4 linked regions of the Homo sapiens genome follow. The protein of the gene in region 2 purifies or fractionates together with the protein of the main gene of each other region. This does not show direct contact. Each region holds a gene or a part of one and is shown on either strand. Other genes may lie near its edges.

What was found.
Region 1: the proteins of SLX4 (region 2) and RPRD2 purify together in Homo sapiens (affinity purification with mass spectrometry, with the first as the bait; 2 studies listed by BioGRID). This does not show direct contact.
Region 3: the proteins of SLX4 (region 2) and PGAM5 purify together in Homo sapiens (affinity purification with mass spectrometry; 4 studies listed by BioGRID and IntAct, with this or other methods). This does not show direct contact.
Region 4: the proteins of SLX4 (region 2) and TOPBP1 purify together in Homo sapiens (affinity purification with mass spectrometry; 3 studies listed by BioGRID, with this or other methods). This does not show direct contact.

Annotation. Positions count from the first base shown.
Region 1 is NC_000001.11:150,458,133-150,465,155, forward strand, and holds part of RPRD2 (regulation of nuclear pre-mRNA domain-containing protein 2), read left to right. Parts: intron 1-1,927; coding exon 1,928-2,185; intron 2,186-6,394; coding exon 6,395-6,595; intron 6,596-7,023.
Region 2 is NC_000016.10:3,608,597-3,616,202, forward strand, and holds the start of SLX4 (structure-specific endonuclease subunit SLX4), read right to left. Parts: upstream 3,011-7,606; 5' UTR 2,964-3,010; exon of another isoform or gene 2,533-2,963; intron 971-2,532; 5' UTR 369-970; coding exon 1-368. UniProt on the Homo sapiens protein: Regulatory subunit that interacts with and increases the activity of different structure-specific endonucleases.
Region 3 is NC_000012.12:132,706,219-132,713,850, forward strand, and holds the start of PGAM5 (serine/threonine-protein phosphatase PGAM5, mitochondrial), read left to right. Parts: upstream 1-4,623; 5' UTR 4,624-4,658; coding exon 4,659-4,849; intron 4,850-7,632. UniProt on the Homo sapiens protein: Mitochondrial serine/threonine phosphatase that dephosphorylates various substrates and thus plays a role in different biological processes including cellular senescence or mitophagy. Modulates cellular senescence by regulating mitochondrial dynamics.
Region 4 is NC_000003.12:133,651,929-133,658,951, reverse strand, and holds part of TOPBP1 (DNA topoisomerase 2-binding protein 1), read left to right. Parts: intron 1-1,010; coding exon 1,011-1,154; intron 1,155-2,094; coding exon 2,095-2,276; intron 2,277-3,465; coding exon 3,466-3,662; intron 3,663-5,427; coding exon 5,428-5,607; intron 5,608-6,322; coding exon 6,323-6,489; intron 6,490-7,023. UniProt on the Homo sapiens protein: Scaffold protein that acts as a key protein-protein adapter in DNA replication and DNA repair. Composed of multiple BRCT domains, which specifically recognize and bind phosphorylated proteins, bringing proteins together into functional combinations.

The sequences.
Region 1 (7,023 bases), on a different chromosome or scaffold from region 2:
TCCAACTTGAGATGTGCTATAAGTATAAAATACACATTGAGGCCAGGTGCAGTGGCTCATGCCTGTAATCTCAGCACTTTGTGAGGCTGAGGCGGGCAGATTGCTTGAGCCCAGGACTTTGAGACCAGCCTGGGCAACATAGTGAAACCCTGTCTCTACAAAAAATATAAAAATTAGTCAGCGTGGTGGCATGCGTCTGTAGCCCCAGCTGCTGGAAAGGCTGAGGCAGGAGAATCACTTGAGCCTGGGAGGCGGAGGTTGCAGTGAGCCAAGACCATGTCACTGCACTCCAGCCTAGATGACAGAGGGAGACCCTCTCTCCAAAAAAAAAAAACCAGACACATTGGAGTCCAGAAACTAGGCCGAGCATGGTGGCAGAAACTCTCCCAAAGAGTTAAAATATCTCATTAATAATTTTTTATTTATAACACTGAAATGAAAATATTTGGGATATATTAGGATGAATAAAATAGAATTTTTAAATTACATGTGTCTGTTTCTTTTTATTTGTTTGTTTTTGAGAGAAAAAGAGAGTTTCCCTCTGTCGCCCAGGCTGGAGTGCAGTTGCGCAATCTTGGCTCACTGCATCCTCCATCTCCTGCGTTCAAACAATTCTCCTGCCTCAGCCTCCCGAGTAGCTAGGATTGATTGTAGGTGCATACCACCACACCCGGCTATTTTTTGTATGTTTATTAGAGACGGAGTTTCACCATGTTGGGCAGGCTGGTCTCGAACTCCTGACCTCAAGTGATCCGCCTGCCTCGGCCTCTCAAAGTGCTGGGAGGTGGGCTTGAGCCACCATGCCCGGCCCTGATTCTTTTTTTGTTAATTTGGCTGCTAGAAAATTTAAACTTACATATGTGGCATATGTGGCTTAAATTGTATTCATGTTAAATAGCACTGTTTTGGGATGAGGGGTCACTTATACTGGAATTCCTTATTCTCTGTCACTTTTGACCATCAAGAATTCCAAAGTCAGTTTGTTAATCACACTTTCAGAAATAACCTGATTTGGTGAATTGTTTCTCTTATATCCCCAGCCTTCATAAATCTTATTAGATAGTTTGACTCCTGTTGAATTCAATGCACTATTGATACAGCCCTTAAAGCATTAAAAATAATTATTCAAGGTGATTGAGAGTTAAAACATTGTAGTTTCAAATTAGCTAGTGCCTGATTGCACCCCCCAATAGGGCAATTTCAGGAAGCCAGAGGAAAATACAATGAACACTATAGAGGTTCTGTTTCTAAGAACAGAAGTTCTTAGAAAGTTCTCAGGTTAATGGAAAAGAAAAACACAGGACAATTTATGAAAAATATCATTTCCAAAAGACAGAACACAAATGTGTACCAAATAATAACATGCTTCTTGAATTGTACAGATTTAATACACAAATACTAAGAAAATGCAAAGGAATCATTGAAAAGTAAGATACAAGATAAATTCTGGAAATTGCTTGCTTTTTTTTTTTTTTTTGAGACGGGAGTCTCGCTTTGTTGCCCAGGCTGGAATGCAGTGGCACAATCTCGGCTCATTGCAACCTCTGCCTCCTGGGTTCAAGCGATTCTCGTGTCTCAGCCTCTGTAGTAGCTGGGATTATAGACGCCTGCCACCACACCTAGCTAATTTTTTGTATTTTTTGTGGAGGCAGGATTTCACCATGTTGACCAGGCTGGTCTCGAAATCCTGACCTCACATGAGCCATTGTCCCCAGCTGGAAATTGCTTTTAAGCAGATATTAAAGGTGGGAATTATCATAAATTATGAAGAGTATGACTTTTTCAAAAAAGCATGAAGTGAGTCGTTGTTTTCTCTAAAGTAGTGCCTTTTCCCCCAAGTCCGGAAATATTAGGACATGTTATTTCATATAGGAAGCAAAGTCTGGAAAGTAGTAGGATGTAATATCTCTTTTCTTTGTTGAAACAGTCGAGGACAGGAAGGAAAAACCTGCAGAGAAGTCAGCTGTATCCACTTCTGTACCTACAAAGCCAACAGAAAATATCTCAAAGGCCTCTTCATGTACCCCAGTGCCTGTGACCATGACAGCAACTCCACCTCTTCCAAAGCCTGTGAATACTTCTCTTTCCCCTTCCCCAGCATTGGCTTTGCCAAACCTGGCTAATGTGGATCTGGCAAAGATCAGTTCCATCCTTAGCAGTTTAACATCAGTCATGAAAAATACTGGTAAGTAAGCCCAGTAAGGAGGATAAAAAGTTAATTTCCATCTTTTTAAATTGAATCATTAATCTGTTTTTGGGGGGGTTGTTGTTGTTGTTGTTGTTGTTGTTTAGACAGAGTTTCGCTCTGTCTCCCAGGCAGGAGTGCAGTGGTGCAATCTTGGCTCACTGCAACCTCTGCCTCCCGGGTTCAAGTGTTCTGCTGCTTCAGCCTCCCAAGTAGCTGGGATTACAGGCACCTGCTACCACGCCCGGCTAATTTTTGTATTTTTAGTAGAGATGGGGTTTCACCATGTTGGCCAGGCTGGTCTTGAACTTCTGACCTCAGGTGATACACCCACCTCGGCCTCCCAAAGTGCTGGGATTATAGGCGTGAGTCACCGTGCCCAGTCTGTTGTTGATTTTTTTTAATTAATGATTTTTTTTTTTTTTTCTGAGACGGAGTTTCAGTCATGTTACCTAGGCTGGAGTGCAATGGTGCAAACTTCACTCACTGCAGCCTCCATCTCCCAGGTTCAAGCAATTCTGCCTTAGCCTCCCAAATAGCTGGGACTACAGGCATGTGCCACCATGCCCAGCTAATTTTGTATTTTTGGTAGAGACGGGGTTTCACCATGTTGGTCAGGCTGGTCTCAAACTCCTGACCTCAGGTGATCCACCCATCTTGGCCTCCCAAAGTGCTGGGATTACAGGCGTGAGCCAGCGCACCCAGCTAAATTAATTGTTAAATTAAAAAATAATCCAATAATCGGTCATTATAGAAAAATTAGAAAATAAGCAAAGAGAATGAAATAAATATCTAGGCCAGGCGTGGTGGCTCATGCCTGTAATCCCAGCACTTTGGGAGGCTGAGATGGTAGATTGCCTGAGGCCAGGAGTTCGAGACCAGCCTTGGCAATATAGTGAGACCCTATCTCTAAATAAAAAATTTTAAATGAAAAAAATTTTTTAATAAATATCTATAATCCTGTTACCCCAAAGGAAACCACTTGTGTTTACCCTTAAAAGTATATGTGTATATGAATGTTTTGGAGAATTAAATATGTATAACAATTTTTAAAAAAGTAAGTGTATTGCATATACTGTTTCAAAACTAGCTATTTAAAAGTTAATTACATATCTTGAATGTTTTTATGAATCATTAAATATTTCTCTACATCATTTTTAATAGCTGCATAGCATGTGGTAACTTATCTAATCCTTTATTATTAGGCACTTAGTATGTTTCCAGTTTTTTACTGTTATGAAGAATACTATAGGGCCAGGTGTGGTGGCTCACGCCACCACTTTGGGAGGTGGAGGCAGGTTGATCACTTGAGGCCAGGAGTTGGAGACAAACCTGGACAACATGGCGAAACCCCATCTCTACTTAAAAAAACAAAAATTATGGCCGAGCGTGGTGGCTCACACCTGTAATCCCAGCACTTTGGGAGGCCGAGGCGGGTGGATCACGAGGTCAAGAGATCGAGACCATCCTGGCCAACATGGTAAAACCCCGTCTCTACTAAAAATACAAAAAAATAGCCAGGCATGGTGGCGGGCGCCTGTAGTCCCAGCTGCTCGGGAGGCTAAGGCAGGAGAATGGCCTGAACCCAGGAGGCGGAGCTTGCAGTGAGCCAGGATCGCGCCACTGCACAGCCTGGGCGACAGAGCAATACTCCGTCTCAAAAAAAAACAAAAAACAAAAATTAGGCCAGGTTTGGTGGCTCACGCCTGTATTTCCAGCACTTTGGGAGGCCAAGGCAGGCGGATCACCTGAAGTCAGGAGTTCAAGACCAGCCTGGCCAACTTGGTGAAACCCTGTCTACTAAAAATACAAAAATTAGCTGGGCATGGTGGCATGCATCTGTAGTCCCAGCTACTTGGGAGGCTGAGGCAGGACAATCACTTGAACCTGGGAGGCGGGGGTTGCAGTGAGCCAAGATCACGCCACTGCACTTCAGCCTGGGCAACAGAGCAAGACTCCGTCTCAAAAAAAGAAAAAATTCGCCAGCTGTGGTGGCACGTACCTGTAATCCCAGCTACTCATAAGGCTGAGGCATAAGTATCATTTGAACCCAGAAGGCAGAGGTTGCAGTGATCCAGGATCAAGCCACTGCACTCCAGCCTGGTTGACAGAGCGAGACTCTTGTCTCAAAAAAAAACAAAAAACAAAAAAAAAACCTGTAAATTATAAAAATTTTATGAATAACCCTTTGCAAGGGTTAAGTATATAAAACCTTTTTAATGGAATTTTATTTTTATTTATTTATTTATTTATTTTGAGACAGTCTCACTCTGTCCCCCAGGCTGCTGGAGTGCAGTGGCGCGATCTCAGCTCACTGCAAGCTCCGCCTCCCAGGTCACGCCATTCTCCTGCCTCAGCCTCCTGAGTAGCTGGGACTACAGGTGCCTGCCACCACGCCCAGCTAATTTTTTGTATTTTTGGTAGAGACGGGCTTTTACCATGTTAGCCAGGATGGTCTCGATCTCCTGACCTCGTGATCTGCTCGCGTTGGCCTCCCAAAGTGCTGGGATTACAGGCGTGAGCCACCGCATCCGGCCATTTATTTATTTATTTTGAGACAAGGTCCCACTCCATCACCCAGGCTGGAGTGCAGGGGTGCAGTCATGGCTCACTGTAACCTCAAACTTCTGGGTTCAAGTGATCCTCCCACCTGAGCCTTTGAGTGGCTGAGATCACACGTGTGCACCACCACATCTGGCTAAGTTTTGTGGGTTTTTTGGTAGAGACAGTGTCTTACTATGTTGCCCAGGCTGATCTTGAACTCCTGGGCTCAAGTGTTCCTCCCATCTTGGCCTCCTAAAATGTTGGGATTACAATCATGAGCCACTGCACCCAGCCCGAAATTTTTTAAATAAATTTTGCCAGGCAAGGTGGGATACCGTGTAGTCCCAGCTACTCGGGAGGCAAATGCAGGAGGATCACTTGAAGCCAGGAATTCCAGGACGTGTAGTTCACTGTGATCACGCCTGTGAATGTCCACTGCACTCCAGCCTGAGCAACCCAGTGAGACCATATCTCAAAAACTAAATAAAAATAAAGTATTTTAATATATAACTAAATTGATATCCAAAAAAGTGCTATTTTATATGACTAATATATGAAAGCTTCTGTTGTTCCTTACCTTCTCCAGTTACTTGCCTTGTGCAGTCTACAAATCCAGCCTTAAAAAGTTGTTTAATTTCCATTTCTTCTATGAAAGATGTTAAAAATTTTTTTCCTTTGCTTCTCACTTAAGTTTCTTTGTGAAATATCTGTTCATATTTATCTTTTTTAAAATAACAAATGTTTTTCTCTTTATATATTTTATTTCCTGTGTTAAAGATCAACCCAGTGTTTTTAAATGTAAAAATATAAAGGAAATTTCTTAAATAATCTCATTTTAAAAGCTATTTCAAAAGCATATAACTTACCAGTCACATGAAATTATGCAGTGGCTGAGTTATACAACTGCAGTGGCTCTCAGCATCCAGTCAGCCAGCAGTATTTATTGAGCGCCTACAGGGCTCTGAACTGTAGGTGCCATTTGGTGGAGAAAAAAGATTGTCCAGGTGTGGTGGTACATGCCTGTAATTCCCAGCACTTTGAAAAGCCAAGGTGGGAGGATCACTGGAGGTCAAGAGTTGAAGACCACCCTGGGCAATGTAGCAAGACCCTGTCTCTATTTTTTAAAAATAAATAAGAAATATTGGGGCTCTCAAAACTATGAAAATCACTTAATACTTGTTTTTTTCAAGACAGAGTCTCACTGTGTCTCAACTCTTGTCTCACTGCAACCTCCACCTCCTGGGTTCAAATGATTCTCCTGCCTCAGCCTCCCGAGTAGCTGGGATTACAGGCGCCTGCCACCATACCCGGCTAATTTTTTATTTTTGGTAGGGACAGGGTTTCCCCATGTTGGTCAGGCTGGTCTCGAACTCCTGACCTCAGGTGATCCGCCTGCCTCGGCCTCCCAAAGTGCTGGGATTACAGGTGTGAGCCACCTCGCCCGGCCAATACTTGTTTGTTTTAATGGTGTTCCAAGTAAAAGGAGATAATCTTTTCAGGGTTTTTTTTTTTTTTTTTGTACATGTCATGTTATGATGGACCATTTGTGGATCAACCACAGAAGAATTCCTGTTAAATATATCAAACTCATTGAAGTGAGGGGAAGTATCGGAAATTGAAGTCATTTTGAATTGCATTTTCTTGAGTTCATCTTTCTGCCACCAGGGGTCAGTCCTGCATCAAGACCTTCTCCAGGAACGCCCACCAGCCCCAGCAACCTCACCAGTGGCCTGAAAACACCTGCACCTGCCACGACAACATCTCACAACCCTCTGGCAAATATCCTCTCCAAGGTGGAGATCACCCCAGAGAGCATTCTGTCTGCACTTTCCAAAACCCAGACACAGTCAGCCCCTGCACTGCAAGGTAACTGACATATGCCAGAGGGACTCGAATTGTGAATGTTTGTCTCTGGCTTAAATTAATCCTGGATTCCATTTCTGATGAATCCAGAGCCATAAAATGTATAACACAGTTAATTCATTATTCTTTTTATTTATTTATTTATTTATTTATTTAAAATTTTTGAGATGGAGTCTCACTCTGTTGCCTAGTTGGTGTGCAGTGGAGTGCTCTCGGCTCACTACAACCTCTGCCTCCTGGTTCAAGTGATTCTTCTGCCTCAGCCTCCCTAGCAGCTGGGATTACAGGCCCACACCACCATGTCTGGCTAATTTTTGTATTTTTAGTAGAGATGGGGTTTCTCCATGTTGGCCAGGCTGGTCTCAAACTCCTGGCCTCCCAAAGTGCTGGGATTATAGGCATGAGCCACCATGCCTGGTGGTCATTATCCT
Region 2 (7,606 bases):
TGCTTTTTAGTCCTAGGGGCCTGGCTGCCAGACGGAGGTTTCTTCTCTGCAGGGCCTTGAAGGGTTTTGGTCTTGGTAGCAGTTTGTTTGGTCCTTTTCAATTTGCTTCTTATCTGAGTGCCGTTTGAGGCAGCCTTTTGTGTCTTCCTTTCTCCTGACACTTCCTTGATTCCATGTTTTTTCACCCTTTGGAAAAAGCTAGCGCAGAGTTCTTTAAAGTCCTCATCAGACTCATCCATCATCTGACCAGTTTTAAGGCTTTCAGGCTGGTCTTCAGAGGAGCGAGGGTCAATCCCAGGACAGGCAGACAGATGAGAAAGTGAACCCAAGTAGAAGCCTAGCTGAGCCTCATTCACACTCAGTTTCATTAGGGTTCTTCTCTACTTCTCCATTAGATACTTGGAGAGTTTGCACAATTGAACAAAAAGTACTGTTTTCCTCTCTATAATGATTGAAGTATCTTTGTTCAAATTGGGCCTGTGGTTAAACATGTTTAAAGCTTCCCTCTGTTAAAGTCCACAACTGGGCCGGGCGCGGTGGCTCACACTTGTAATCCCAGCTCTTTTGGAGGACGAGGCGGGGGGTGGATCACCTGAGGTCAGAAGTTCGAGACCAGCCTGGCCAATATGGTGAAACCTCGTTTCAACTGAAAATACAAAAAATTGGCCAGGCGTGGTAGCAGATGCCTGTAATCCCAGCTACTCGGGAGGCAGAGGCAAGAGAATCGCTTGAACCTGGGAGGCGGAGATTGCAGTGAGCCGAGATCGTGCCACTGCACTCTAACCTGGGCAACAAGAGCAAAACTCTGTCTCAAAAAATAATAATAATAAATAAATAAAGTTCACAACTGAAAGAGTGTTTTGTTGTCCAATAGATGCCTCTGAGATCGAATACATATGAACCTGGTGCTCAGATAATTCTCCAAGATCTCCATGATGATGAAACATATATGGTTCACTTAATTACACATCTGTGGAAAACCAAAAGCATGTAAGTGTAATCAGACATTGTCATTTTATGCCAGTTCTTCCAGGGAGGGACAAGGGCATGTGGGGTGAGGGAAAAGTCTTCGGAGTAACAATACTGTCAAATACTCAGTCCAGCCTGGTTAACATGGTCTAACCGTCCTATCAGACATCACAACAAAAGGACCTAGAAACCTGTCAAAGCATGTTGTTCTTCCACAGGTATTAAAATATGTGCATCTTGGGAGAGTGTTTTCTTAACTGAAATTTAGGGAGCAAACCCCATAAAAGGCAGTCACCACAGAAACAGGATGATCCCCAAATCTAGGAAAACTATCTCCTACACTGATCTAAGACCCCTGGCTGTTAAAGAGGCTCTTTCTGTAAATACTGCAACATAAGAGACAGAAAGAGACATTATATTCTCATGAACACTCAGGAGAGAAAAGGTCACTTTTACTTATCTTCTCAACCCAGCAAGGCTCTCCAAACCTGGATGACTGGAATGTCGCCTGTGTGCAAAGGCTGGGCCTCGTGAGCATGGTTGTTTACTTTGGCACACAGCTAAGTGGGGTTCAAAAATCAAAACTGAATGACCCAATGGCAGAAAGTTATTCCTTTCAAATACAATAATGCAATCTCCACTGTCCAAGGAATCTAATTAATCATTTTGTTTTCCAGAGCTGAAAATACTCCTACCTAGAATCTACTTTGTATGGCTGGCGCATTCTCTTCTGTGTCTTCCCCTTAGAGAAGTGTCCTCTAATCCTTTATGGACCGTCTCCATCCCCGTTAATCCCTATCATCGCCCACTGTTTTCACAATGGCATCTGTCATAGGTTATCATCATATGAAACAGGTAATATCTATCGAATGCTTACTGTGTGCCAAGCACTGTTCCAATTGCTTTCCAAGTCAAACTCGTTTAATCCTTACAAGAAGCCTATATGGTGGAATCTCTTGTCATCCTGTCTTTACGGCAAGGAAACACGCGCAAGCAGAATGAGGAACTGGCCTAAAGCCAGTTCAGGAACAGCTTTCACAGTGGCAGGGCTGGGATCAAACCCAGGAAGTGTGGTTCGAAACTATCCGCTCTTGTGTTTTTATTCATCGGCTTATTATCTGTCCCCCATTAAGCTCAACACTTCAGGAGGGTAGAGATCCATCTATTACTTTGCAACCTCTTTGGCTGATCTGGTGCCTGACTTGAAATAAGTGCTCCACAACTACTTGTTGAATTCATGAATTGCAAAGAGTTCGGTATAATGGGAGTAGAGAGAAAGGTGTAGGAGAAAACGCTGCGGGGAGAGGAAAGGATTGGCTCACAAGGGCCTGGAAGGTCAGGCTAGGCAAAGTGAATTTTATCCTGTTGGATGCGGGGAGCGGCTGGAACAAATTCCACCTCCACAACTGTGTTGATCTCCGCATCTCTGTTGATATGAACCTCACAACAGTCTATCTCCTCCTATAGGTGCCCAGTCAAGATTTACTGAATGACATAACGGATCCTGCAAGCCTGCAGGTTTCCAGAGGGAAGGGGACTTGTGCCTCCTTGCTTCGTACCTACCGCAGCCCACGGCTCACAGCAGGCGAGGGATGAATGAATGGATCGGTAAGGGGCGGACCCTCCCGCTTCCCCCAACCCGGCGACCTACGGAAAGGGGCTGAGGGGTTCCCCGTCTGGGAAAAGGGCTGCCAAAGACTCTAACGGCTCTAAAGTCAGACGGAGAACCCCGATCCCCGGACTGGCCCGGACGGAGACCACCGTGGGGATCCGGATCCGCCACCCTCCTCCCTCCAGGCGGGCCCCGGCCCCTCTCCACCCGAGTGCGGCTCCTGCCTCTCCGTCGGGGCTGCGGGCCTGCCGAGGCCACGGAGCCAGCGAGGGAGACGGGCGAGAAAGGCTCTTCTCCCTTAGGAAAGAGAGAACGGCCCGAAATGACAGGACCTCCGCCTCCCGGGTGCCGACTCCCAGCCCCACAGCCCGGCTCCTCCTACCTCCGGCGCCGCCGCGGCACCTTCTTAACGGAGACTCGCGCGCCTGCGCATGCGCCGCCCGCGCCCCCGCGGAGCATTGCCTGCGCGCAGGCGCAGAGCGGGCGCGCGCGGTGGTGCGGCAGCCTCGCTTCCGGTCTTCCTCTGCGGCGCCGGGCGCGGGCCCGCGGCGGCCAGCGCTTCCGGTCGGCAGGAGGCGGGGCGAGGCGGAAGCGGCGCTTGCTTCAGGTGGAGTCTGTTAGTTTTTGAGAAAGAGTTAGGGCGAGTTTAAGGCACTGTGGCAGCTGTGAGATAAAGTCTGGTTCCTCCCCAGCTGGCTCAGGAAATGTTCGCGGATACAACGGCGGCCCCCTCTGGGCATACCTGCCTGTGGAGCGGAGAGTGGACGGTGTGAGGGGGACCGGGAGAGGCACCAAATCTGGCCTGGGGGCCCGAGAAGCTTCCTCTCAGGTGGGGTGGCGTGAGAGTCGAGGCCTGGAGGTCGGGGAGGGTTAGCTACGTGAAGAGGGGATTCTGCCGCGCTTCAGGTGCCTGGAGGGGATGCCCGAGCTCTTCCGCAGGGCTAGGGTGAAGCCAGCCAGGGCCTGGGGGAAAGGTAGCAGAGGTTTGCCATGGCTTGGTATTTGAGGGACTTTACACATCGTATTAAGGGTTTGAGCTTCAACTTGGGGTCGTCGGGAGCCATTGAAGGTTTTTTGTTGTTTGTTTTTTGAGACGGGGTTTTGCTCTTGTTGCCCAGGCTGGGGTGCAGTGGCGCGATCTCGGCTCACTGCAACCTCTGTCTCCCGGGTTCGAGCGGTTCTTGTGCCTCACCTTCCCAAGTAGCTGGGATTACAGGCGCCAGTCACCACGCCCAGCTAATTTTTGTGTTTTTAGTAGAGACTAGGTTTCACTCTGTTGCCCAGGCTGGTCTCCAACTCCTGACCTCAGGTGATCCGCCCGCCTCGGCCTCCCAAAGTGGTGGGATTACAGGCGTGAGCCACCGCTCACGGCTTTTTTTTTTTTTTTTTTTAAGTAGAGACGGGCGGTGGGGGCGGGGGGGGGAGTCTCACTATGTTGCCCAGGCTGGTCTCGAGCCCTGGCCGCAAGAGATCCTCCCGCCTCGGCCTCCCAAAGCGCTGAGATTACAGGCGTGAGCCACCACGCCCGGCGTAAGATTTTGTTTTTAAAGGCCTAATTACAGTGAGAACAGATGAGGCAAGGACACCCATTAGGAGGCTATTACATAATCTAGATGAAAAGTGAGAGCGGCCCGAATTAGGAGGTGGAGCGAAAAGAATGGAGAAATATGGAGCATAGTCAAGACGCAGTTGTTAACGATTTGCCGGTTTCTGGCCTTAACATCTGAGAGTAGTGTGCCTCCAGTCACTGAAATAATGAACACAGGAGAGGTGTAAAGGAATCAGTTTGCAGGGCAGACAATATGTTTTTTAAAAGATACAGTATCATAAAATGCACACTAGAAGTGTACATTCAGTGGTTTCCAGTACGTTCACAGGATTTGCAGCCATCGTCGCTAATTCCAGAACGTTTTAAAACCCCAAATCGAACCTGCCGTACCCATTCGTAGTCACTCCGCAATTCCCCCGACCCCATCCCCTGGCAATCACTTATCGGCTTTCTGTCTCTGTGGTTTTGCGTATTCAGTACATTTTATGTAAATGGGATCATGTGATACTTGGCTTTTTCTGCTGGGCTTTTATTAAGCATGTTTTCAAGATTTCATCCATGTAGATGAATCAGTACTGCATGCCTTTTCATGGCTGCATAATCACGTGTTTGGATGGACCATGTTTTGTTTATCCATGTATCAGGTGATGGGCATATGGATGTTTTTACTTTTTGGCTGTTAGAAATAATGCTGCTATGAACATTCGTGTTCATAACACAAGTTTTTGTGTTCTAGGAGTGGAATTACTGGGTAAGACTACATTTGATTCTGAATGTTGAGCTTCAAAACCTTCCAAGAGGTTTTCCTTGATGAAGGATTTAGGAGGTGTTTACTTGCTCTCTGGCTTGGAAATCTAAGTTAGTTTGTAATATGGTTTCCAACTGGATAAAGAAGACAGAACAAGAATGATAAGCAGCCCAGAGGCAAGGGTAGGGCAGGGTGTCTTGGGACTTGAATTTATAGAGGAGACTGAGTGACGACATGGAGAGGCCAGTGCTGTTGAAATAATTTCTCTTTCCTTCCTTCCCTTCCTTGCTTCGTTTTCGACGGAGTTTGGCTCTTGTTGCCCAGGCTGGAGCGCAGTGGTGTGTGCAACCTCCACTTCCCTGGTTCAAGCGATTCTCCTGCCTCAGCCTCCGGAGTAGCTGGGATTACAGGCGCCCGCAACCGCGCCTGGCTAATTTTTTTTTTTTTTTTTTTTTTTGGACAAAATCTCGCTCTGTTGCCCAGGCTGGAATGCAGTGGTGTGATCTCGGCTCACTGCAAGCTCTGCTTCCCGGGTTCACGCCATTCTCCTGCCGCAGTCTCCCGAATACCTGGGACTACAGGCGCCCGCCACCACACCTGGCTAATTTTTTGTATTTTTAGTAGAGACGGGGTTTCACCATATTAGCCAGGATGGTCTCGATTTCCTGACCTCGTGATCTGCCCGCCTTGGCCTCCCAGAGTGCTGGGATTACAGGTGTGAGCCACCGCGCCCGGCGTAATTTTTTGTATTTCTAGTAGAGACGGGGTTTCACCATGTTGGCCAGGCTGGTCTCAAACTCCTGACATCAGGCGGGCGATCTTCCTGCCTGGACCTCCCAAAGGGCTGGGATTACTGGTGTGAGCCACCGCGCCTGGCCTGAAATAATTTACTTACATTTCTCAAGAAAAGGAGGCGTGCCACCACGTTCAGAGCCACAAGGGAGACATCAGCTTTTGGTTAGGAGGAAGAAATAGGAACAAGGAGAAAGTCTAGGCCAGAACCTTTATGGGGTTCCTCAGAAATAGCAAGTCAGGGCGGAGTAAACATTTTAGGATTGGATAATTTAAATAATTCCATCACGCTTTGCCTTTGGGTGGTCTCTAGTTGCTTGGTACCTGGCCATGGATGATTTAGGGCAGGAGAAATACTGGCTTGGTGTGTGAGAGTTAGATAAAGGGGGGAGGCTGACTTGCCTGTGAGAGGCATGCTCCCAAGTAAGTTGTTTACTGTCTTGAGGAATTAGACCTGGGAGAGGCAGTCTCCCTGCCAGCAAGATTTATTAAGATTTCAAAATATCATAGGATACAGAAAATTTTTTTAAACATCTAATAAACATGGACATGGCTGGGTTATGAAGGATAATTGTAATGGTAGAAATTACTGTTTTCCAGTCAGACTGAAAATGAAGTGCCTGTTTCCTATTTAGGATTTAAATCTCTTAGAGTCCTGGTGAAGAAAGTCTTTGCTACCTCTCTCCCCCAACCCCAAATCTGGCTATATTATTTATTTACATAAAATAAATTAGTTGAAGTGTGGTTTAGAAAAGAGAGTTTTCTTAAACCTGAGATTCTCAACTGAATCACCTGTGGAATTTTTTTTTTTTAATTGGAAAGGCTGGGACACTACTCTTAGGCCTACTGAATAAATCTTTCAACCTGTGTCTTTTGAAAGTTTCACAGATGATTCTGATGGTCTCAAGATTGAGAAGCACTGCATTTAACCAGCACCAACTGAACAAACACTGTAGGCTAAGTATAAGAGAGATGGCAAGAGCTGGGTCAGGGTGGTGCATGGGATTTCCAATTATACATAATTCCTCCCTTCAATGAACAAAGCCATCCATAACTGGGGCACCTGCTTCTTTGGGCTAAAGGTGAACAATGGCAGCCACCTTGTCCTGGACCCTATTGTGACTGTTACTCCAGCAGAAGCCCTGGGGTTCATGCTGTTAGTTAGAAGTCACCCAGTATGACTAAGTTGAGGGGCAGTGTTCAGAAACAGTGTTACTAGATGGATGTTATTTCAGTAGGAACAGTATTGTGTGTTCCCTGTCAGCATTTGAGGCGGAAACCCACTGCACTGTCAGAACAACCAGGGAGATGAAAGAAGATGTCAGATACTAAAAGGTGCAGACAGTCCTTGTGTTTGGTAAACCTTACAGGGTTTATCTGAAAGAGAAAATGGATGCAGAAGTACATGAAAAAACTGTGTTATTCCAAATAGATGTGCTGTTTTCCCAGTTCATAGGAGTCGGTAATTTTTGGGTTCAGGGCAAAAAGGCAAAGGTTGAAGATGCTGTGATGATCACGTCCTTACCCTCCTGGAATATTTCCTTTTTGAAAGCTTCTGGCATCTTCCACTGAGTTCATGTTTTAAACAGTTGGGAGGATGAATTGAAGGGCCCTTATCCCAGGTCTGTGGTTTGATTATAAATGGTAAAGCCATAACCTGTCCACCTCCCTCTCCTTTATCTTGACAGGGGTTGGGGAGACAGCAGATTGAACAAGGAAAGAATTGTCTCCTGAGTTCTTTGATCATGTTAACTTTTATTTACTGTTGTATAGTCACATTTTCTAGACTGCTAAAATTGGTGAAATCAGGACAGGAAATAACTGTTTTTACGTGTATAAGTATACAAAAGTTATTCGAGATGAGTTACACTGCATTTCTTTCAGTGTGCTGCCTGCCACTGCTGCCTTTGTGTGATTTTGCTCTATATGTTCTGCT
Region 3 (7,632 bases), on a different chromosome or scaffold from region 2:
GGGCGGATCACGAGGTCAGGAGATCGAGACCATCCTGGCTAACATGGTGAAACCCTGTCTCTACTAAAAAAAATACAAAAAATTAGCCGGGCGTGGTGGCGGGCGCCTGTAGTCCCAGCTACTTGGGAGGCTGAGGCGGTAGAATGGCGTGAACCTGGGAGGCAGAGCTTGCAGTGAGCCGAGATCGTGCCACTGCACTCCAGGCTGGGCAACAGAGTGAGACTCCGTCTCAAAAAAAAAAAAAAAAAAATTAGCAGGGCGTGGTGGCACGTGCCTGTAATCACAGCTACTCGGGAGGCTGAGGCAGGAGAACCGCTTGAACCTGGGAGGCAGAGGTTGCAGTGAGCCAAGATCGCTCCACTGCATTCCAGCCTGGCGACAGAGAAAGACTCCGTCTTAAAAAAAAAAAAAAAAATTAGCTGGGTGTGGTGATGCATGCCTGTAATCCCAGCTACTTGGGAGGCTGAGGCAGGAAAATCACTTGAACTGGGAAGGCAGAGGTTGCAGTGAGCCAAGATCGTGCCACTGCACCCCAGCCTGGGCAACAGAGTGAGACTCTGTCTCAAAAAAATAAATAAATAAAATAAAAAATAAAAATAGGGCTGGGTGCAGCGGCTCACGCCTGTAATCCTAGCACTTTTTGAGGCCGAGGCAGGCGGATTACTTGAGGTCAGGAGTTTGAAACCAGCCTGGCCAACATGATGAAACCCCCTCTCTACTAAGAAATAATAAAATAAAAATTAAAAACTTAAAAGGCTGAACATTGCCGTGTGCGTGGACTGCATTTTGCCTGTCCGTCTGTCCGTCAGTGGCTAGACTGTTTCCAGCTCCTGGATGCCGTGAAGGATGTGGCGGTGAAGACAGCGGCACTAATGCCTGCTCAAGTCCTGCTTGCCTTGGGTTTTCAAAGAACTGCTCTTTCAGTTCAGAATATTTAAGGTGGGGTCGTTCCCAAAGGAAGTTTAGGGCATTTGCAAAAGTAACAGATGCTCCTGCAATTGATGCAGAAGGTGACAATTCTGACTATCCCTCTAACTTGCCACTTCCCAGTGAGTCCCACCCCCTGCCATGATGGAGGATTAAGAACCTGGATCTCAGAACAGATTCTAGATTAGAATCCAGAGATGACAGTACTGACACCGCTTAGGGCTGCTTTGTGCCGGAACTCTTCTGAGAGCTGCAGCAGCCCTGAGGGAGGTGCCATTGTTTTCTCTACTCCACATGTGGGGGATGCAAGATGCCTCAGCTAGCAAGAGACAGTCCTGATTCAGAGGCAGTCAGCCAGGTCTTGAGCCACCATCTTCACCACCTCATCATAGGGCATCAGAGTGTCACGGCAAGGTCAAGAGAATTTGCTGGAGAAGATTTCACATCATGTATATGGCTTACCACAGCCCGCATCCGGTCAGTTCGCTGAACACACCTTTACGGAGTGCTGTCAGGCACACAGGGGAGAGCAGAGACCAGGAGTTTTTAGTTTCACACACTTAACAGTCATCAGAAAACAGGCTTTTTTTTTTTTTTTTTTTTTGAGACAGAGTCTCACTCTGTTGCCCAGGCTGGAGTGCGGTGGCATGATCTCAGCTCACTGCAGCCTCCCGTTTCCAAGTGATTCTCCTGGCTCAGCCTCCTGAGTAGCTGGGATTACCAGCGCGTGCCACTATGCCCTGCTAATTTTTTGTATTTTTAGTAGAGATGGGGTTTCACCATGTTGGCCAGGCTGGTCTCGAACTCCTGACCTCAAGTGATCCATCCGCCTGTCTCGGCCTCTCAAAGTGCTGGGATTATCGAGCATGAGCCACTGCGCCCGGCGTAAAAAATACATTAAAAAAAAATATTTTCTCCTGGGCTGGTCAGTTTCCACACAGAGGAATCCTTTAGTTCTTGTCAGGGCATTGGGGGAAGGATGGTGGTGGTAGCTGAGCAGGGAATGAGCCTAGTGGCCAACATTCTTGTGGCTATCTGGAGGAAAGGGGTTAGAGGTCCTACTCTTCCTTATGTGAACTCTGTATAATCCCATCTTTATTACTGCATCCCCAATCTGAGCTATGCTTGGTGTCCTGAAATCCAGAACCCTCCTGTTCAAGTCCCCTGGAATGGCCTTTCTCTAGTGCTCCACGGTGATGAAAGTGAGCTATTCCCCTGAACATGTGGGGGAGAAACGAAATGTGGAAGGCAACCTTTTCCTCTAAATGCTCCTGCTTTCAGCCCCACAGCTCTCAGACAGGAGGCTAATGCTGCCAACTCCCAGACTCTTCCAGACTCACTGGATTAAATGAACTTGCTTCCTGGTTTCCTTCCACATAGGCACTGGTGTTCCATATTCTCAGGTCGATAAAGATCTGATCTCCAGCTCTTGAACTTTTGTTAACTGATTTATCTGCTGTCATTTCTTCTTATGGATTCAACTATGTCCTTGTGGATTTTCCCTTGTTTTTTATTTTATTTTTTGAGATGGAGTCTTGCTCTGTCACCCAGGCTGGAGTGCAGTAGTGTGATCTCAGCTCACTGCAGCTTCTGCCTCCTGGATTCCAGCGATTCTCCTGCCTCAGCCTCCTGGGTAGCTGGGATTACAGGTATGTACCAGCTAATTTTTGTATTTTTAGTAGAGATGGGGTTTCACCATGTTGGCCAGGCTGGTCTCAAACTCCTGATCTCAGGTGATCTGCCCGCCTCGGCCTCCCAAAGTGCTGGGATTACAGGCATGAGCCACTGAGCCTGGCTGATTTTCTTTTTTTTGAGACAGAGTCTCTGTCACCCAGGCTGGAGTGCAGTGGCACCATCCTGGCTCACTGCAACCTCTGCCTCCCAGGTTCAAGCGATTATCCGGCCTTAGGCTCTCGAGTAGCAGGGACTACAGGCGCGCACCACCACGCCAGGCTTTTTTGTATTTCAGTAAAGACGGGGTTTCACCATGTTGGTCAGGCTGGTCTTGATCTCCTAACCTCGTGATCCGCCCACCTCAGCCTCCCAAAGTGCTGGGATTACAGGCGTGAGGCACTGCGCCCGGCCCAATTTTCCTTTATTTTTTTGAGACAGAGTCTCGCTCTGTCGCCCAGTCTGGAGTGCAGTGGCGCGATCTCGGCTCACTGCAAGCTCCGCCTCCCGGGTTCACGGCATTCTCCTGCCTCAGCCTCCCTAGTAGCTGGGACTACAAGCACCCGCCACCATGCCCTATTTTTTTTTTTTTTTTTTGTATTATTAGTAGAGACGGGTTTTCACCGTGTTAGCCAGGATGGTCTCGAGCTCCTGACCTCGTGATCCGCTCACCTAGGCCTCCCAAAGTGCTGGGATTACAGGCGTGAGCCACCACGCCCGGCCTTCCTTTTATTTTTATTTTTTAAATCTTCCTATCATTTTTAGTAAATGACCTGGAAGCAGCAGACCCAACTGGAAGCGTACAGGTTCAAGAAAGCCTGTTTAAGCAGAAGTCTCAGTATTTCTGTGGAACCATTCAGTTTTTTTATTTTTATTTTTTTGAGACATTGTTTCACTCTGTTGCCCAGGCTGGAGTGCAGTGAGGCAATCTCAGCTCACTGCAACCTCCGCTTCCTGGGTTCAAGCAACTCTCCTGCCTCAGCCTCCTGAGTAGCTGGTATTACAGGCTGGAGCCACCGTGCCCGGCTAATTTTTGTATTTTTAGTAGAGACCGGGTTTCACCATGTTGGCCAGGCTGGTCTCAAACTTCTGACCTCAGGTGATCCGCCTGTCTCGGCTTCCCAAAGTGTTGTGATTACACGCGTGAGCCACCGAGCCCAGGCCCAAGTGATTTTTAAATAGCTTAAATCAGATCATGTCATTTCCCAATTTTAAAATGGGCAGAGATGGTCCAGCAATCCCACTTCTGGGTACAGACGCAAAACAATCAATGAAAGAGAGATCTGCACGCAGCACTGTTCACGCTAGCGAGGAGATGGCAACAGGGCAAGCGTCCAGCAATGGGTAAGCGGTGGGGTCGGTGCACGCAGGCGTCCAGCAATGGGTAAGCGGTGGGGTCGGTCCACCCAGGGAGCGCTGGTCCCCCTGGAAGGAAACCCAGGCTCTAACGCGGTCCCTCTGAGGACCCTGCTAGGCGAAACGCGCCGGCCATAGAAAGACTGTCCCGCAGGAGAGGGCGGTGTTCGGCCCGGGGTTTGAGGGGTCGGGACCAGGAGGAGGGACAGCCCGGCCGAACCTGAACGCACTTCAGGCCGCTTGAACAGCACACGCAGGAACTGCGCCGACGGAAAACTTTACTTCGTGTTCCGCCACCAAAAAAATATCGTTTAAACAAACCTGCGGCAGCTTCCCAGCTCCCTTAAACCAGGATCCCAAGTTCTCCGCGTCTCCGCCCCTGCACCCAGCCTCCGGCCTCGGCAGGCGCTTCCGGTGCGGAACCTTCTGGAAAGTACCGCGCCGCCCTCCCGGCGTCCCCACAACCCCGCCCGCACCTGCGCGCACCGGCGCTCGCGAGCACAAGTGACGGGACTGGAGCGTGGCGCGGCAGGTGGCTCCACGAAAACGCCCCTTCGCGCAAGGCTGCCCCGCGTCCTGCCGCGCCCCAGGAGGCGGGACTTCCGCCCCCGCCGCCCGGAAGCGGCAGCCGGGGGAAGCGTGTTCCTCGCGGAGCGCCGTCGGGGCCGTGGGCGCCTGCGCGGGCCGGCGCGGGAGCAAGCGGCATGGCGTTCCGGCAGGCGCTGCAGCTGGCGGCCTGCGGGCTGGCCGGGGGCTCGGCCGCCGTGCTCTTCTCGGCCGTGGCGGTAGGGAAGCCGCGCGCAGGCGGGGACGCGGAGCCACGCCCGGCTGAGCCGCCGGCCTGGGCGGGGGGCGCGCGGCCGGGCCCCGGTGTCTGGGACCCCAACTGGGACAGGTGCGCGCGGGGCTGTTTGGGGCCGGGGTCGGGATGGGGGTCAGGGCAGGTGTTACCGTTGGGATCGAGATCGGGACCAGGTTTAAGGTTGCGATCGGGTCGGGATCTGGGGTCGCCGTCTGCTTTCCCCAGCGGAGGAGCCGCTTTCCGGGGCCGCTCTGCGCGGAGGGTTCCGGGGGCGGCTGACCCTTCCCGCCGGCTTCTGTGGCCGAGCTCCGTCGCGTCCTCGCCCTTCTCCCCGCCCCTGCGAGTCCGCCCTGGGTGCCATCGCCGGAGCGCGGGCCGGGGCGAGGCTGAGGTGGAAGCCGGGCCTCCTTCAGGGGCGTTTGCAGGAGCGCGCCCGCGAGCTGCGTGCGGTTATTGAGCGTTTGAAATATGGCTCGTGTGATTCCTGAAGGGAATGCTTAGTTTACGTCAATTTAAACTTAACGCAAGCAGGGCCGGGTGCGGTAGCTCAGGCCTGTAATCCCAGCGTTTGGGAGGCTGAGGCCGGAGGATCGCTTGAGAAATTTGAAACCAGCCTGGGCAACATAGTGAGACCCCCATCTCTACAAAAAATACAAAAAAAATTGGCCGAGCGAGGTGGCGCGCGCCTGTGGTCCCAGCTACTCGGGAGGCTGAGGTAGGAGGATCCCTTGAGTCCAGGGGTCCCAGGCTGCACAGTGTGAGCCGAGATCCCGCCACTTCACTCCAGCCTGAGCAACAGAGCCTGTCTCAAAGGAAAAAAAAAAAAAGTAGTGCAGGTTTTTAACATTAGTTATGTGTTGAAATAGTATTTTTAGCATATTGAATTAAAAGTATGATCGAAATTCACCTGTTTCTTTTTAATGTTGCTATTAGAAAATGTATAATTTCACATGTTGCTGGCATTCTGTTTCTGTCGGCCAGGACTGCTCTAGCGGCAAGGATGGTTTTCCCAGTCCTAACTCCTCATTATACTCAGTACTTTGAGAAAGGGGGCACAGAATTATACTACTGTGGTTGCGTTAGGTACTTTATATTAGATTTTTATCTTTTGTTAACCTTATTTCCTCTATTATTAGCATCATACACTAAGCATGGTGTATATATCAAAATTAATGAGCCAAAATAATATAGATTAATTATAGTTATTATATTAGTTTATAATACATTACTGTTAACTAAGGTTCATGTTTCATTGAGATTTCCTCAGCTTTTACCTGCTGTTCTGTTCTAGGGTCCCACATGACAAGTAGTCTTCATGCCTCCGTAGGCATGTTTTGGCTGTGACAATTTCTCAGACTTGTTTTGATGATCATGAGTGTTTGAGGCGTCCTGGTCAGGGGTTTGGTAGAAGGTCCCTCAATTGAGACTTCTCTGAAGGTTTTCTCATGATTAGACTGGAGTTACATTCTTTTTCCTTCTTTTCTTTTTTCTTTTTCCTTGAGACGGAGTTTCGCTCTTGTTGCCCAGGCTGGAGTGCAATGGTGCAATCTCGGCTCACTGCAACCTCCGCCTCCCGGGTTCAAGCAATTCTCCTGCCTCAGCCTCCCGAGTAGCTGGGATTACAGGCACGCGCCATTATGCCCAGCTAATTTTGTATTTTTAGTAGAGACGGGGTTTCTCCATGTCGGTCAGGCTGGTCTTGAACTCCCAACCTTAGGTGATCCTCCCACCTCGGCCTCCCAAAGTGCTGGGATTACAGGCATGAGCCACCATGCCCAGCCTGTTATATTCTTTTTTAAAAATCAGAATTCTGAAAAATCAGAAATTCTGAATCAATATTCTGAATTTCTTAGGTCTTTTTAAGGAAACAGATTTACTCTGCCGTTAAAGAACTTGAAGTAGGCTGGGTGCGGTGGCTCACACCTGTAATCCCAGCATTTTGAGAGGCTGAGGTGGGCGGATCACTTGAGGTCAGGAGTTCGAGACCAGCCTGACCAACACGGTGACACTCTGTATTTACTAAAAATACAAAAAAATTAGCCAGGCATGGTGGCATGCACCTGTAGTCCTAGCTACTTGGGAGGCTGAGGCAGGACAATCACTTGAGCCCAGGAGGTGGAGGCTGCAGTGAGCCCAGATCGTGCCACTGCACTCCAGCCTGGGTGATAGAGTGAAACTCTGTCTCAAAAAAGAAAAAAAAGAACTTGAAGTAGAACCGGGAGCTGAGCCCAGCCTTTCTCTTTTAAGCAGGTGTTCTGTATTTGCTTGTCATGTCTGGGGAGAAGTGAATTGGGCCTTGTGGGTTGGGAAAGACTTATACAGACAGAAGGCATGAGCAACTACAGGAAGGTGCTAGAAGACAGCATGTTTCTTCTTGAGTCTCACCTGTCCACACTTGAAAGTTCCAGAGCCTCATCTGGTGAAATCTCCAGCTTCTTCCTGGAGGTCTCATGCAGTTTACGGCTTCCTGTCTCTGTGCCTATAGCTCCCAAATATTTTCTCTGGCTCAGCCTGACTCCCCCATACCTGCCAATTTGAGTCTTGGCCTGGTTTATGACAGGCCCCCAGGTCGGCGTGGCCCAAACGGAGCCCTTGAGTCACCACCGTGCCCTTCCACAGCTTCCTTTTCCGCCACTGTCTCAGCGAGTAAATACCAGCAGGTTCGACTTTTGCTATTCCCAGCTCTGCCGCGTTGAACTTTTTTTGTTGCTGTTGAGACAGGGTCTCGCTCTGTTGCCCAGGCTGGAGTGCAGTGCAGTGCAGTGGCAAGATCATGGCTCCCTCCTAGGCTCAAGCAATTCTCCCACCTCAGCCTCCTGAGTAGCCGGGACTACAGCTGTGGACCACCTTGCCCGGCTAATTTTTTAATGTTTTTG
Region 4 (7,023 bases), on a different chromosome or scaffold from region 2:
CATACATTCTTTGCGGATTATAAAGTACTATGCAACTTATGAGTACATTGGAATTCTTTTGGTTTGGCAAGACCAGGATTGAAAGGCTAATTATGTTACAGTAGGCTTTTTTTGTTTGTTTGTTTGTTTTTGTTTTTGTTTTTTGGAGACAGAGTCTTGTTCTGTTGCCCAGGCTTTAGTGCAGTGGCACAAGCTCAGCCCACTGCAACTTCTGCTTCCTTGGTTCAAGTGATTCTTGTGCCTTAGCCTCCTGAGTAGCTGGGATTACAGATGTATATACACACCCGGCTGATTTTTTTATTTTTAGTAGAGAAAGGGTTTCTCGATGTTGGCCAGGCTGGGCTGGTCTTGAACTCCTGCACTCAAGTGATCCTCCCACCTCAGCCTCCCAAAATATTGGGCTTATAGATGTAAGCAGTAAGGCAGTTTTCAGTGAAAGGGGCTTTTGAAGTTTATTTCTTTTCTTTTCTTTTTTTTTTTCTTTTGTTATAGGGTCTCACTCTGTCGCCCAGGCTGGAGTGCAGTGACGTGATCTCAGCTCACTGCAACCTCCGCCTCCTGGGTTCAAGCAATTCTCTTGCCTCAGCCTCCCTAGAGACTGGGACTGCAGGTGCCCGCCACTGCACCCGACTAATTTTTGTATTTTTAGTAGAGACGGGGTTTCACCATGTTGGCCAGGCTGGTCTCGAACTCCTGACCTCAGGTGATCCACCCCCGCTCGGCCTCCTCTGAAGTGCTGGCATTACAGGCGTGAGCCACTGTGCCTGGCCTGAAGTTTATTTCTTTTGATAGCTTGCATTGTTTGATTTGCTTTTGTGTGTGAGTGTTTAATGTATAGTATCTCTGAGAAATTATATAGTCATCTTTATTTTTTTCTTGTAATGATTTGCTGATTTCTCTACAGTGGTCATCAACTTTGGTAAAGAATTGGTGAATGTTACAAAATGTAATTTTGTAAGACTGGTGGTCTTTTCCTTCTTAACTCATTTAAACTTTTCTCTTTTTTGTAGCTTGGCTGCAGAATTGTTGGTCCTCAAGTAGTCATATTTTGTATGCACCACCAGCGATGTGTCCCAAGAGCCGAACATCCAGTTTATAATATGGTTATGTCTGATGTAACCATATCTTGTACAAGTCTGGAAAAAGAAAAAAGGGTAGATATTGATCTCATGATGATTGATCAATTTATATATCTATCTCTTATTCTTAATTTTTCACTGCATAGAAGATAGCTTAAAAGACTTTCCGCTTATTGTTCGTGACTTTTAACAAAGTTCAGTATACAACCACAGTGTGTATATATGTATACATGTACATTTTTTAAGTAAATTGAATATAGTAGAATTTGTTTTGTTGAAAACTGGCTAATTGAAATTTTTTGTTTTAATTTAAAAGGACACTCATTTTTTAATCACTTACATTTTTCCACTATAGGTGGACAGTCTTTAAAAAAAAGGATTCTAAATCGTTTGAATCAGGGAGGTGGAGGTTGCAGTGAGCCAACATCACGCCACTGCACTGCAGCCTGGGTGACAGAGCAAGATTTCGTTTTGGAAAAAAAAAAAAAAAAGCATTCTAAGAGAGAGCTATAGAAATACATATATATATTTGGGACAGGGTCTTACTGTCACCCACGCTGGAGTGCAGTGGCACAATCACAACTCACTGCAACCTTGATTTCCTGGGCTCAAGTAATCTTCATGCCTCAGCCTCCCGAGTAGCTGGAATTACAGGCATGCACCACCAAGCCTGGCTAAAAATAAATATTTATATATTATATAGATATAATTTATGTTGTTAAAAATACACATGTATATTTATATAGAAGCAAAGATTAAGATTTATACATCCTTTGTATAATAGTTTAATACATTCATGGAGTTGAAAGGGATAAATATAGGAAAATAATATTTTAAAAATATAATTCATACTTATCTCCCAAAAAATAATTTGGTTAATTATTTAACTTTATAATGTTATGTAACACTTATGTATTCAAACTGTCAACAGCAAAATGTATTTATGAGATAGTGTATAAAAGTGGAAGCAATATTGTTTGCTTCAGCATTAATGTGTTCTCTTTTGGGGCTGCAGGAAGAAGTTCATAAATATGTACAAATGATGGGCGGACGAGTATACAGAGACCTTAATGTATCAGTAACTCACCTTATTGCAGGAGAAGTTGGTAGCAAAAAATATTTAGTTGCTGCAAACCTGAAGAAACCTATTTTGCTTCCCTCTTGGATAAAAACACTTTGGGAGAAGTCACAAGAGAAGTAAGAAAGACATTTTTATATTTTCTAGATTTGAAAAAATGATGCATTCAATCATTTTTGGCATGTGATATACTCTTTGGACTTACTATTCAGGGAAAAAAATAGTGTCATTACTCTTTTCTCCAGCGAAAACGGAAGAGCAGAATCTACAAGCTCTTATTACCAAGATATAAGTTGACAGGCATAGAATGGGCCAAGGGTTTAGCATTAGCTACAGAGTAGGAAATGCTTTGGTGATAAAGTTCTCAGCTGTAAATATTTCTGAAATAATTGAGAAAACGAGTTTGGCAATTCTGTAGCTTTTATGTTGCATTATCCTTCAACACCATTCCCATATGTTAAGATAGATAATAAATTAGTCATTTTGGCAGTTGCATTCCTTCCAAAAGATGGCATATGTAAGGTTGAATATAAACATATGCAAGTCATCAGCTGAGATGTGATCATTTAATAAATGCTAATTGAGCCCATTTTACGTATCTGACTTGAGGTAGGCATTAGGTATATGTAGTAAGCAAAACAAGATAGTCACTTCCCTCATGGAGCTTAGAGCCTATTTCAAGGGGCACACTTCAGTTTCCCCTGCAACTAGATAAACAACCACAAGACCAAACACCACAGAATTGTATTGGCATACGAATTATATCGGCACTTTTCTGGGCTTGTTTTCAACACCATCCAGCATATCCCAAATATGTCTCCATGTCAGCAACTCTCATTCCCAATGTGATTACTTCATCAGCACACCTCCCTAGCATGGCAACAGAATAATGATATTTTTGTTGGTATTTTGCCAAAAATCATTGCTTTTACTTGTATAGAATAATGGAAAGATTAAAAAGTTCATTTATCTAATAGGCAACCAAATTACCTTTGGGTTTTTAAGTAGAGATTCAGACTTATCATTTTGGAAAATATACTATGACCAGCAAGGGCTAGAGTTAAGGAAATATATATTTTTCCCTTAAAATGGTTTTGAGAGACTGTATCTGAAACAATTACTTTGTTTTAGAGACATGTTATTGAACTAGGTGAACAATTAGTGTAATTCTGTTTTGGTGGTTCTCCTTTGTAAAAAAAAGATTATAAATCCTAAAAAATGAGGGAAGCAATAGTGATATTTGTGTTGTTTTTCATTATTCTTCTGGTAAATTTAATATGTTCTTTTTTAACCATTTGATTCCCACAGAAAAATAACTAGATATACTGATATAAACATGGAAGATTTCAAGTGTCCTATTTTTCTTGGTTGCATAATCTGTGTGACTGGCTTATGTGGCTTAGACAGGAAAGAAGTTCAGCAACTCACAGTTAAGCATGGAGGTCAATACATGGGACAATTGAAAATGAATGAATGTACACACCTCATTGTGCAAGAACCAAAAGGTAAAACTGTGTTTCACAAAGGGACAAATGAAACATTTTCTCTAGTATTTAATATTTTATTTTTATTTATTTATTTATTTATTTTGAGACAGAGTCTTGCTCTATTGCCCAGGCTGGAGGGCAGTGGCACAATCTCAGCTCACTGCAACCTCTGCCTCCCTTGATCAAGCGATTCTCCCAACTCAGCTTCCCGAGTAGCGGGATTACAGGCACCTGCCACCACGCCTGAATAACTTTTTATTTTTAGTAGAGACGGGCTTTCACCATGTTGGCCAGACTGGTCTCTAACTGACCTCAATTGATCTTCCCACCTCAACCTCCCAAAGTCCTGGGATTACAGGCATGAGCCACCGTGCCCAGCCACTAATATTTAATATTTTAAAATCTTTACAGAACAGCTTTTACTTCTGACATGTCATTAATCTAGTTTGATACTGTTTTCTCTAACATCTTGCAAAGATGTTTTCTCTAACATCTTGCAAAGTTTTAACTGGAAGACACACCTTGCGGCACATGAGGCAGTAAAAAATGAAAAAGACATTACGAACAAGAAAAATTCTTTAAAATTGCTATTAAGTTTGGTGTTACATAACATTATTCTGGATAATTTTTTATCAGCACTCTTAAAATATACACAAATTGATAAAAGATGAGTTTTGTTAATGTTTTTATTATTGCCCTTTATATGTATACTGTGTTTTACTAAGCTATCTAGATTGAGAAGAAATTACGATTAAATGGTAATTGTCCTTAAGTCAGAACTTTGAGTATGGCTGATTGTGATAGGATCACTGTGAGTAGAGTTGATACTGCTGTTCTTTTTCTGAATCTGAAGACAGTTCATTGTTGATTCTCTCAAGAATGCCAAAAAACCTTTCATGTGACATATTGACCTCAATTCCTCTGTGATACTGCTTCAAAATACATTGTGTTGAAGATTTTTAAGGTAATAAAAGATACATATTTTCAATATAATTTATCTTTTGGCTTATCTATCCTGGACTTTAAGTAGAAGCCTGTTGACATTGGAATAGTCTGTTCAAAGTTGGGATTTATTATATAGCACAAATTTACAATTTTCACATTGTACAAGCTGGTTTAAAGAAATTAAGTGATGGAGCCTATATGCAAACCCAAGTCCAATATTAATTAAGTTACCCCACAGTTGCTTCTGTCTTCCTGCAGTTTGTATAAAAGATAAAACCTCTCACATGGCATATGTATTTATACTACACATAGAAAATATAATTAGGCAATAAGCTAAAATACTACTTTGTAATAAACTGTGTAGCATACTGTTTAAGAGTAAGTACTGGTAACTTTAATTTTGTTGATAGGTTTTTGAAATAACCTGTTATAGCCGGGCGCGGTTGCTCACGCTTGTAATCCCAGCATTTTGGGAGGCCAAGGCAGGCGAATCACCTGAGGTCAGGAGTTTGAGACCAGCCTAGCCAACATGGTGAAACCCCGTGTCTACTAAAAATACAAAAAAATTAGCCAGACATGGTGGCACACGTCTGTAATCCTAGCTATTCAGGAGGCTGAGGCAGGAGAATCGCTTGATCAGGAGGGAGGTGGAGGTTGCAGTGAGCCAAGATCTCACCACTGTACTCCAGCCTGGGCAACAGAGTGAGACTCCATCTCAAAAAAAAAAAAAAAATATTAACCTGTTATAATTTGAATATTTCTGCAAAGATAGATTGTAATGGTTTTCATTTCTTGGTTTCTCCTATTTTCTCTATTTCTTTCTTAATGAACGCCACAGGTCAGAAGTATGAGTGTGCCAAGAGATGGAATGTACACTGTGTGACCACACAGTGGTTTTTTGACAGTATTGAGAAAGGTTTTTGTCAGGATGAATCCATATACAAGACAGAACCTAGACCAGAAGCAAAGACTATGCCCAATTCTTCAACTCCTACCAGCCAGATCAACACAATTGATAGTGAGTCTCATTGAGATTAAAATAATTATTCTGAAGACAGTCATATTTCTATGTAATAATCAGTATGTTAATAGGATCACTGAGATAGGGAATTTCTTTTTCTTGTTTGCTGTGCTTCTAGGCATAATTGTATAATAGTCAAATTGTATAAAAAGTTAGCACTGAACTGTTCGTAATTTTCTTTTAGAATGAATGAATGCTGTCTTTTATACTCTGTTGTAATGCAAAAGATGATCAAAGAAATTAAGAACAATGGTAGCTGGGGGCTTAAGATAAAAGTATTAATCTTTTAAACATTACATGCATATATTAATCTTTCCTTAATTTACAGTTTTGCTGCAGTTATAGATCATCTGTATTTGTATAAAAATTAAAACCATTTCTATTTTGTAGGTGTCGTGTTGGCAAAATGTTTAAAATATTTTTTCAAATGTAAGCTTCTTGGACCTTAAAGTCAGCAACTTCAGATTTTTATGGGAAACAAGACACTATTAAGAAAATGTGTTAAATCTATTTTCATTTAAATAAGATAGGAGGCTTAATTAATTTCATTTTCCCTTTTTATACTTTGCCACTAAGATTTCAGTAAACACCCCTGAATCTTACTTTGGAAGTTGTTTATTGCCCTATATTTGTAAGAAAAGTTAATCCATAGACAATATGTAATCATGATTATTTTATCTCCCATAAATTTATACGTTTTCAAAATATGTAGGTCGTACTCTTTCAGATGTCAGCAATATTTCCAACATAAATGCAAGTTGCGTAAGTGAATCAATATGTAATTCACTTAACAGCAAACTGGAGCCTACACTTGAAAATCTAGAAAATCTGGATGTCAGTGCATTTCAAGCACCTGAAGATTTATTAGATGGTTGTCGGGTACGTCTTTATTATATAATACATGCAGTAGATGATATACATTAGCATTTCCTAGCCTGACTTTGAAGACCCTTCAGAGTTGGGCTTGCTCCTTACTATCTATGTAAACCCTCCACTCTAGCTAAGTAGATGCACTTACTAGACCATGTCCATCCTTTGGCTGCGAGAGTCCCTCTGCCTGCAAGGTATCTTCCTCTGTTATCTTTTAAAAGTTCATTTCAGGTTTTAACTCTTCTCTGAACCCTCCTAACTACATTAATCTTTTCATCTGCTATATTTCGAGAGCACTTAGTTTCTGAACAACTTATTGGATTTTTTTTTTTTAATTTTTTTGAGTTAGGGTCTCACTCTGTTGCCCAGGCTGGGATGCAGTGGCACAATCATAACTTCCTGTAACCTTGAACTCCTGGGCATCAGCCACCCCTCAGTCTCCCGAGCAGTTAGAACTACAGGCATGTGCCACTACACCTGGCTAATTTTTAAAATTTTTTTGTAGAGACAAGGTCTCACTATGTTGCCCAGGTTTGGACTTTA